Linked DNA regions of Homo sapiens: all the other regions are linked to region 2. The links come from fine-mapping of genetic effects on gene expression. A gene starts in region 2. Each other region holds a variant in brackets. All regions are shown on one strand. Distances are between the middles of the regions.

Region 1 (2,687 bases), 230 kb after region 2:
GGTGTAGTGGCAGGTGGCTGTAATCCCAGCTACTCAGGAGGCTGAGGCAGGAGAATTGCTTGAACCCAGGAGGCGGAGGCAGGAGTGAGCTGAGATGGCGCCACTGCACTCCAGCCTGGGCAACAGAGTGAGACTCTGTCTCAAAAAAAAAAAAAAAAAAGGCCGAGTGCAGTGGCTCATACCTGTAATCCCAGCACTTTGGGAGGCCGAGGTGGGTGGATCATCTGAGGTCAGGAGTTCAAGACTAGCCTGACCAACATGGAGAAACCCCATCTCTACTAAAATACAAAATTAGCCGGGCGTGGTGGCGCATGCCTGTAATCCTAAGTACTCGGGAGACTGAGGCAGGAGAATTGCTTGAACCCCGGAGGTGGAGGTTGCGGTGAGCTGAGATCATGCCACTGCACTCTAGCCTGGGCAACAAGAGCAAAACTCCGTCTCAAAAAAAAAAAAAAAAGAAAGTAGAGCCTTCTGGCTTGGTAATAATTTTACAGATGTGTTGTATTAAACAAAACAAAACACTGAAAAAAACCTTAACTGTGAATACACATACGATCCAAGATAACCCCAGGAAAAAAGAAAATATGTTTTCTCTAACTCTTAGAAGTTTAGAAAAGCTTTTCTTTTCTCATTCTTTCAAAGCAAGATGATCTTTTTAAAAATCTGCTGCATCTTAAAATTGATACCTTCTTGGGTCAGCCTCATGTACTATCACACTTCTATTATCAAAGAATGACCTTTCATTTGTTGAAAGATAATTTTTATGAAAAATTGATGTTGAATTCCACCATGTGCCTTTTCAAAGTCCTAGCTTGATCTACCAGGGGATTATTGTTATATAGTACTTTTATTCCTAGACTTAAACAAAACAAAAACCTTTCTTGTACCAGCCAACTGTGTCCCAAAATTCATAACTCAGTACTCATCATTCTCTGTTGAAATTTTATCTTTTCAGTGTTGTGCAATATTTTGGATGTTGTCCATATTATAGGCTAGTCAGGATCTGCCACCTTGCTATTTTTCAGGTATGTAGAAGGAGGTGGAAAATTAGTCTCAATATCTAAATCAAACAAAAAATCCGTTTATGAAAGTTCTGAATTCCTTAGGATAAATTTTTGTTCTTTGAAGGCTATGACTTATCAAATGGTACCTAATGCTGTGTGGATAGCCGTGCCCGCCAAAGTAGCTTATTTACCCGGCAGGATTGAGACCACTGATTTTTGTAGAGTAAGTCATAACAGCCTATTAACATTCCGTTATGCTGAGCATAGAACTAATAGGAGAACATCTGTGAGGTCAGAGATCAGAAGTAGACTTCAGAATGTACT[A/G]TTCAAAAAAGGATGCAATGGAGAACATTTACAGAGGACTGTGGGTAAAGCAAAGTCTTCAAGGGAAGATAACAAAGGATGAAACAATGGTGTTGTGTGACTTCCTAGTGAGTGAGATACTGTGAATTTAATCTATAGCTAACTTAATTTACTCTTCATCAAAATTTAGCTGACTCCAACATGCATACACCTTTTGAGCTTCCTCTAATTTTCTGTTATTAGGGTTTTACATATTTAGCTCAACTAATTGAATTAGAAGATGCAGGAACATTGTCGGAATGTTTGAATCTCATTTAATGCTTCATATTGGGACAGACGAGGCACTCCGAAGGCAGAAAGGCCAGTTGGGACACAACTGCTGGGGAGGGGCAGGAGGCTGTGGCCATTCCTATAAGACAGTTCAGGGGGCCGTTCCAAGCCAGGGAGACCTGGCAGGGATCTGAGAAATACACAATAAGTGAAATGGAACAATTTTTCTACTGTTTTAGCTATTATCTAGAACCCATGTTAGACCCTTAACTGGCCTTGGCGTGAACTTGACATTTGAATCATTTGGGAGCTTTAGGCAGTAAAAACTGGAAGAATATACCTGGAAAAGCAGGTTTGAATGCGAGGATTAAGTTATATTAAGATTAAATTGGGGCCGATTGCAGTGGCTCACACCTGTAATCTCAGCACTTTGGGAGGTGGAGGTGGGTGGATCCCTTGAGGTCAGGAGTTCGAGACCAACCTAAACAACGTGGCGAAACCCCGTCTCTACTAAAAATACAAAAATTAGCCAGGCATGTTGGTGTATGCCTGTAAGCCCAGCTACTTGGGAGGCTGAGGCAGGAGAATCACTCGAACCCGGGAGGCGGAGGTTGCAGTGGGCCAAGATGAGGCCATTGCGCTCCAGCCTAGGCAACAAGAGTGAGGTTTACATTGTGGTAGGCATTGAGAGGTGTAAAGTAAATAAAATAGAACCCTCACTTTCAAGTGACAGCTCTAGAGAGCCTATATCCCGAAGGCTCTAGAACCTGCAAACTTCAAAAGAACCCCGGCAATGTGTGAAATAAGTTTAAAGTAAATATTACTTAATTGCTCATTCAGTCATCGAATAGCCATTGTTTGGGTGGAAATTGGGGAAGAAAATGTGTTGCTTAAGAACACGATAAGGAAGGAGTGGTCAGACAAGTAGAAGGATTGCTGGGAAGAATCGTGTCCAGAAAACAGAGGGAAGAGATAATTTCCAGAAGGAAAGGGTGGGTCAACTGTATCACATGCCACAGAGAAGCCAAGTGAAGATAAGCTTACAAAAGTGAGTAGTGGTGATACGGAGGTAATTGGTGACCTTTAGGAGAACTGATTAGTGGGAGTGGT
Region 2 (2,679 bases):
TCATCCTTCTACCCCCAAACTTCACCAACCCGAAAGGATTCCAAGTCTGGGATGGGGAGAAAGGAAAGAGGGTGGAGGCAAAGGTGCGCGACGGGCTGGATACCAACTGGAGGGTGGGTGTTCGCATTGAAATGTTTTTTTCTTTTGCCCTAGAAATTGCTTCCCCATGCGGGCCCCTACTCTCTCCCATTTCCCCCACCTCCCTGCTTTCTTTTTCTTCAATTCTAGTGGATCTAGAAGGAAAACGAGTGCTGCTCTGAGTCACTCAGCGAGCTAATGCTATGGCCCGAAGTTGGGATCAGGGTCGAGGGGTGGGGGACCATGTGGATGGGGTCCCAATTCTGGAGGTTGAGAATGACTGGAAGGGACCTGGGGAAGGGTCGGGAGCTGTTCCTGGTCCGAGACACCTGATTTGTCCCGGACAAGGCAGTGGGGGAGGGGAAGGAAAGAGGGGATGCTCGGCTGGGACGTGTCGCGGCAGGGGGTGGAGGATGAGGAGGCGGCCTGGGACCCCGAGTCAGATCTTTGGGGTGAGCACGAGGACGTGGTGTAGGGAAGAGGACGAGTGAGCAGCGCCTGGCTGTAGGGTCAGAGGGCGCCTGGTCATCCTGAGAGCCTTGCCTTCGCAGTTTGAGATTAGGGGAAGTTCGGGGCCTGAGAAGGTGGGCGCGATGCTGGAGCTGGGAATTCTTCCTCGGAGCCCCTGGACCGAGTTGCGCTGCGCCTGCAGCAACAGGTAGCCCCGAGGGATGGGCGGAGGCCCCGGCCGAACCCGGAGCTGGCCTTTGTCCTGCCAATTAGAGGGCTCTCCAGAGGGACAGCGTGGGTGGGGGTAGGTGGGGAAGGGCGGGAGAGGAGTTTCCTAACACTTGGAGCCCCTTTGAGTTGTTCTGTGTATTGGGTGGAGGAGGGTGAATCCGAGAGGAGGGAGGAGGGTGAATCCGAGAGGAGGAAGGAGGATGAAGAGCCTAGCCTGCGCCCCACCTCTGATTGTGTAAGCGCCTTTATCTAGGGTTGACCCCCTACCCTTTGCATTTTGTCTCTTGGGATGACGAAAAATGGACAGAAACTCGACGCCCAAGTGAATGTTTCACATTGATTGGCAGGGAAAGTGCAAACAAAGAGGTGCATCTCCGGGAAACAATGATTTTGGAGATCCCCTGCCCACCACCCCAGACTTGTGCGCGGTGCGGAGGGGGCCAGGGCTGGCATCTCCCGGGGAAAGTTTCGAGCCTGGCAGTGGGAGGAGACCGTCTGGGCAGAGTTGTGATGAACTGGGGACCGAGCAGCCCCAGCTCGCCTCGGAGGTTCCCGAGCCGGGCGGGAGATGCGGGGAGAGGGAGGGGGCGGGGAGGGAGGGGAGGGAGAGAGGAAGAAGGGGTGAGAGGGAGAAACCTGCCGCCGCTCGCCGCCTCTTTGTCTGCTCCGGGACTTGGAACAAAAGGGGGAACTCTGATGAACTCTCTTTCCTCCCCTCTCCCCCGGACGCCGGGGTATCTCCCTCTCGCAACTTTGCCGCCCCGACTTTCTCTGCTGTCAGGCCGGGAAAAAGTGTCCGAACGCCTCGTGGACTGCAGCGGGGGAAATGTCCCTTAAAAGTGCGACGAAGTGGGGAAGAAGGTGAGTGGGGACTGTTGTCTTGTTTACCTCTCTCCCCTCAACTCGCCCCGCTCCCCGCCCTTCGGAGGGCAGAGGAGTAGCCCAGTGGCAAAGTTTGGCTGGTAAATTGTACCTCCTTTCCCCGTTCCCTTCTCTTTTGTTCTTTAAAGAACTCGCGCAATTGTTTCATTTGTTTATTTTTAATAGGCAAAAGCCAAGTAGGCATTTATCTTATGTGCTTCTTTATATGAGGGGCTGGGGGGATGGGGAGGAGGGTTTCAAAAGGGTGGGGTGAGGGGGTATTGCTTCGCGTTCTTCCAGCTGCACTCATGTAGGGATGAATATGCAGAAATTGAGAGGGTCAAGTCCAGCCTCGCCCCCACCCTAGCCCTGACCCTGGTCATGCAAAAGAAAGCGATATGGATATGGGGGTCGTTTGTATAACTTAGCTGTCTGCAGAGCGCTCTGTAGATACCACGCACAATATAAAAACGCTGCAACAATGGAAGGAAGAAAGGTTTGGGTTGGAGGGGATTGGTCCCTTGTGTTAGCGGTCAAGGAGAGGTTTACAACAAACAGCTAAGAGTTCAGAAAGTTTTCTTCGGGGCTGAGATGGGGTGGAGGAAGCCACAGGTTACAGACTGTCAGAGATGCAGGGATGGAGGGGATGGGGCCTGGACCACTAGTTAGAGCCATCCCGTCCGCCCCTTTCAGTTTCACGATCCACCCGGAATAACCCAGGCAATCCTTGGTATCCGTCCTCACCTCTCTCACTTTCCATCACCCCCCGCCCCCAACCCCACTTCAGTGTGTTTGAATAGAAAGCAGAACGTGAGCCCCAGAAGCTCCTCTGACCCAGCCTTCCGCCCCGCCTTTTGTGTTTTAACCTTTTGTTTCTATCTGCCACGCCCGTCCAAAAGAGGGATGGCTGTTTCTGCTGCTGCGGGGTGAAGAGGCAGCGCAGTCCACTCCGTTTTTATAGGCTAAGGAAGACGCCCTAACTTTGTTTCCTAAGTAGCTTAACTTAGGAATGTTTCTAGGTTGGGTCATGCGCGAATGAGGGGAACACTCAACACCCAG
Region 3 (2,687 bases), 150 kb after region 2:
GTTAGTCAGACTCTAAAGGATATTTTGAGCTGGAATATAAAAAGCACATGTAATAATTAATGTAACAGCAGCTAAAAGTGCCTGAGGTCAGTAGTTGCTACATCTATATTGCATGTAAACAAAGTGTTAGCCAAAACTACTTTCAGAGAGCCCTAATTACGTCTGTTTTAATTTAATTTAGTTTGATTTAATGATACTTTTTATATGAATTTGCTTCATGGTTACTCTGTTGAATTTCCTTTCCCTGAGAAGAACCCATAAGAGATTTTTTTCCCCCAAATGATTTAGTTTGGTGACTTTGGATACAGCCAAAGCATTGTATCTTACGGCATAGCATCTTCAAGTGGAAGAATGTACCAGATATAAAGTCAGTAATTTAAGATGAATTAAAATTTTGTTTAGTTTTTAAAATATGAGATTTACATACAATGAAGTACAAATATCTTATTGGTGTATTTGTGTGTGTATGTGTGTTTTGTTTTTGTTTGTTTGTTTTTTGAGATGGAGTTTTGCTCTTGTTGCCCAGGCTGGAGTACAATGGCGCGATCTTGGCTCACTGCAACTTCTGCCTCCCGGGCTCAAGCGATTCTCCTGCCTCAGTCTCCTGAGTAGCTGGGATTACAGGCACCCATCACTACACCTGGCTAATTTTTTGTATTTTTAGTACAGTGGGGTTTCACGATGTTGGCCAGGCTGGTCTCGAACCCCTGACCTCAGGTGATCCACCTGCCTTGGCCTCCCAAAGTGCTGGGATTACGGGCGTGAGCCACCGCCCCAGCCAGTGCATTCCTTGAGTTTTGACACATGCATATCCTTGTGTCCCTGGGACTCCTATCATAATATGGAACATTGCCATCACCTAGCTAGTTTTTTCTTGCTCCATCCCGTCAACCACTGCCTTACCACCTCCAAGGGCAACCTGTTTTGTGTTGTTTTGTTTTGTTTTTCTTCCCCATTGTCCATTCGATTTGCCTGTTCTAGGGCTTC[G/A]TGTAAATGAAGTCTCATAATCTCTGCTCTTTTGTAAGGCTTCTTTCATGCGTAAGCTTAAATTTAATAGTTTTTCACAATGTATTTAATGGAAGCTATATCATAAGAAGTGGTGTAGAAAAAAGAGTGGTCCTGTTTCAAAGAAGAAAGAAGGTAACATTCATTGTTATTTTGAAATGGCTAAAGTTGAAAATGTTTTTTATTGATCTATTTGCTAGTTAGAATTTTAATTGTGATAATTGTAGATTTACATCAGCTGAAGAAACAATGTAGCTTTACCTGGTCTCCCCTAGTGATAACATTTAGCAAAACTGTAGTACAATATCATAACTAGGATTGATATTGATGTAATCTACCAATCTTACTCAGATTTCCATAGTTTTACCTGTACTCATTTGCGTGTGTGTGTGTGTGTGTGTGTATACTCAGTTGTGTGCAGTTTTATCACATATATAGGTTTGTATATCTACCACTACAGTAAAGATGCTGAACTGTTACAGCATGGATCCCTCCTATTGTTTTTTTGTAGCTGTACCCAGTTTCTTCTCACCAGTCTCCTATCCTTATCCCTTGGAAACTACTTATTGGGTCTCCATTTCTAATAAACTTCATATATGTAAATAGAATCATATAGTTCATAATCTTTTGGAATTGGCTTTTTTCTTTCTTTTTTTTTTTTTCGATGGGGTCTCGCTCTATCACCCAGGCTGGTGTTCAGTGGCGCTTTCTCAGCTCACTGCAACTTCGGCCCTGCCCCAGGCTCAAGCCATTCTCCTGCCTCAGCTTCCTGAGTAGCTGGGACTATGGGCACCCATCACCACACCTGGCTAATTTTTTTTTGTATTTCTAGTAAAGATGGGGTTTTGCCATGATGGCCAGGCTGGTCTCAAACTCCTGACCTCAGATGATCCACCCACCTCGGCCTTCCAAAATGTTAGGATTACAGGCGTGAGCCACCCCACCCAGCCTATTTTTTATTTTAACCATTCTGATAGATGTGAAGGAGTATCTTATTGTAGCTTTAATTTGTGTTTCCCTGAGAGCTAATGATGTCGAACATCTTTTCTTGGCCATCCATATATCATCTTTGGTGAAGTGGCTGTTCATGTCTTTTCCCCATTTTCTAATTGAAGTTTTAAAAATCTATGTTTAAAGCCGGGCGCGGTGGCTCACGCCTGTAATCCCAGCACTTTGGGAGGCTGAGGTGGGTGGATCACCTGAGGTTGGGAGTTTGAGACCAGCCTGACCAACATGGAGAAACCCTGTCTCTACTAAAAATACAAAAAAAATTTAGCCGGGTATGGTGGCACATGTCTGTAATCCCAGCTACTTGGGAGGCTGAGGTAGGAGAATTGCTTGAACCTGGGAGGCGGAGGTTGCGGTGAGCCGAGATCGTGCCATTGCACTCCAGCCTGGGTGACAAGAGCAAAACTCCATCTCAAAAAAAAAAAAAAAAAAAAAAAAAAAATCTATGTTTAAAAGAAAGATTATGCAAAGCACAACCCCAGTAGGTATCAATAACATTTGAGAAGAGTACCTCAAAAAAGATCTCACTAGACTTGAGAGATACTATTAGATAAATAAATTGAGCCAATTGATGGGTGTAGGTAGATGCTCTGCAACAAATGGGTAAAAAGAGGAACTGTCAACTTTTTGTCGATCCCACAGTTGTCTTGTCAATAGCTTGGGCTTCCAGTTGT
Region 4 (2,687 bases), 490 kb after region 2:
TTCTATCCAAACAGATTGAAGCTTGCAATCTCTGTCTTGTTTAAAACAAGGTGGTCAGGATTCCAGATTTAGATAGGAAAAAAATATATATACCATTTTTGTTATTACAAAATATTATTTTCTGGGGTATTGTGGGTTTGGCTCCCTTTTCAAAAACCAGCCTGATGTGGATGCTTATGGATGAAACTGAACTGCTCCTACCCTACCCTGTTGGCTTCACAATGTATAGGAAAACATAGGTTTTTCTCCAGAAGAAAATCTGCCTGCAGAATGTATCTGGAGGTTGTTTTCCTTGTTGCTGACATATGCACTGCATGTAGACAACTCACATAATCAACTGTATAAGATGACCCATTTTTTTCCTTCTCATGGATCTCCAAGTGTCTGTGGCTTTTAATAGATCTTTTCTAGAGGAGGAGTCTTGATAGATCTTTTTAAGGTAATCTGAAAAGCCATCAGGAGAAAAATTAAAGCAACACATATTTAAGAATACTTTAATTTTTCTTGTTCTTAATTATATGCTAACTGTGCTTAAACTGCAATTTCTTTCTGTTACCTTTTACTGCTGAAAGTAGTGATTATCCTTGCCTTTTAGATTTGAAATTAATTTTCGTGAGAACACCCTGGGATATCACAAGTAAAAAAGAAACTGGGCTACATAAAGGAAAAGAATAATAGAGATTCTTGTAAACTTGTCACATTAGTTTTTTTTGCCCACGTGAAAAAGGCAAGAGAAAATTTAGGTGTAGATTTTTCTTTTCATTTACATTTTAAAAAATATTTGGAACTATTTAGATACATAATGCTTTAAAACAGTGATTCCTACTTATAGCGGAGACTACAGTCAAAACAAAATAAAACAAATCCTCTAATGCTATCAGAGCCAAGAAATCTATCAATCATATATACATTTTTTAAATCCAGGAGTGTTTACATTTCAGCATATAAATCTTATCAAGCTAAAATAGAGTATATATTCTGATGTTGTAATTGATCGATCATACCCTCACTGGCTTTGAGAGTCCCCAAACATTTATTGTAAAGGTTTCCAACTACACTAGCAATCTTTTGTAATTGAATAAAATGCCAATTTATATTTGTTGAATAAAAGATTATCTGGGGTACTGCTCCTTCCGAAATGAAGCAATTTCTTTGTTGTTTTAATAAGTGAACATTTTTTGGTTTTCTTTTGCAGTATTTATTTTGCTTAGGTCAATGGACAATTATTTAAATATTTAAATGCAAATATATAGAAATAAAATGTCACTTTAAAATCACTTAAGAAAGGAAAAACGTCAACATACTTTTATTAACATTCTTTAATAAAC[A/G]TATGGCTAATTTGTATGTAAAGCACAGCCTGTTTCCAGGTACCCAGTCCAATCAAATGTTTATAGTTTGATTAAAAATAAATTGATCACATTATAATAGTTCAATATAAGTCTTATTTGGCTGTTTAGGTTGCTAAGAATTTCCCATTGTTTTTATCCATTACCAGGGAGGTAAGTATTCAATAAGTCAAAAACAAAAACAAAGCAAGCATATTTTAAAATGTCATTTATGCTGACTTGGCTAAGCTTAAGCTTATACTTAAGCTTGAATCCTAGATATTCACTTAGACAATGTATGTCATAGTATTCATTTCATCCTTTGCCATTCATTAAAACACCAAAGGAGCGATCATCCTCACTCATTGCATCAATCATTTATTTATTAGGTATTTATTTTCTGCTCACACAGGAGGCTAACTTCTCCAGTTATAAGGTTCAACATAGACCAATGAGGTTTTGGTGGGATTGGTGGGTAAACAAAAAAGGGAATATAAGCAGTTGATTGTGGTGGGCCACGAAGCGCAGGTGAATCTTGTGTTGAATAGTTTCCCTGACTGTATTCTGTCTGACACCTAATGTTACTTAGTCCTTACAACTTTGGGGAAGAACTGGTGCCCTTACTATCAGATGCTTGGAGATGATCAGCTCTCCTGATGTCACAGAGAAGCTACATCTCTTCCAAACTGTCTCAACACTTTTATAATATGAAAGATCTATCAGTAAGTCAGAATGTGCCTTTTGTGAAGTCATAAAAGCATAATGTAAACCAGTGATTTTTGACATCACTGTTAAAATGGGTAATAGTATCTCAACCATAATACCTGAAGCGCCCAAACTGTACACTGCCGGAGACCTTATCTGATTCCCTCAGCCTGATGCCTCCTGGGCTTCCTTTTTACCAGGCTCCTGTCTTATTAGACCAGCCATCACCTGGTGGTATTCTTTAGTCTGTTTCCCCACTAGTCTCTAACCCATTCTTCATCTGTGTGCCAGGGGCACAGAAGATGTTTCACAGACATTAGTTGATTAACAAATGAATGAATGAGTGAATTGATGAGTATCCAGAAGACAGATGTTAAGAGGAATAATGAAGTCTTCTATCTGTGGATGTATCAATGGCATAGGGCAGGGATCAACAAAGTTTTTCTATAAAGGGCCAGATAGTAAATACTTTAGGCTTTGTGGACTGTATGGTTTCTATAGCAACTACTGAACTTGGCTGGTGTAGCTAAAAAGCAGCCATAGACAATAGTAAATGAGTGAGTATGGCTGTGTTCCAATCAAACTTTGTTTACAAAAAGAGGCAAGGGGTTGGATTTGCCTGTGGGTTATAGACCCCAAGTTATAATCATTACCTTT

The links. PIP is the estimated chance that this variant, and not a neighbour inherited with it, causes the effect.
Region 1: its variant is fine-mapped to the expression of CASC15 in testis (GTEx, PIP above 0.99).
Region 3: its variant is fine-mapped to the expression of CASC15 in nasal epithelium (TOPMed, PIP above 0.99).
Region 4: its variant is fine-mapped to the expression of CASC15 in adrenal gland (GTEx, PIP 0.96).

Annotation. Positions count from the first base shown.
Region 1 is chr6:21,897,350-21,900,036 of GRCh38, forward strand. The region is part of intron 4 of CASC15 (cancer susceptibility 15); the gene reads left to right. Among named protein-coding and RNA genes, the nearest start is that of CASC15, 230 kb to the left of the region's middle. The variant A/G (reference allele first, on the strand shown) is at 1,329.
Region 2 is chr6:21,665,026-21,667,704 of GRCh38, forward strand. It overlaps CASC15 (cancer susceptibility 15), which reads left to right and starts at 1,388. Exons shown (of 12, transcript NR_015410.2): 1 at 1,388-1,620. It overlaps LOC124901483, which reads right to left and starts at 1,035. Exons shown (of 3, transcript XM_047419653.1): 1 at 1,027-1,035; 2 at 622-790. The coding sequence starts at 1,035. RefSeq lists a silencer at 653-947.
Region 3 is chr6:21,817,998-21,820,684 of GRCh38, forward strand. All of the region lies in intron 4 of CASC15 (cancer susceptibility 15), which reads left to right. Among named protein-coding and RNA genes, the nearest start is that of CASC15, 150 kb to the left of the region's middle. The variant G/A (reference allele first, on the strand shown) is at 988.
Region 4 is chr6:22,150,528-22,153,214 of GRCh38, forward strand. All of the region lies in intron 9 of CASC15 (cancer susceptibility 15), which reads left to right. Among named protein-coding and RNA genes, the nearest start is that of NBAT1, 4.7 kb to the left of the region's middle. RefSeq lists an enhancer at 1-631. The variant A/G (reference allele first, on the strand shown) is at 1,329.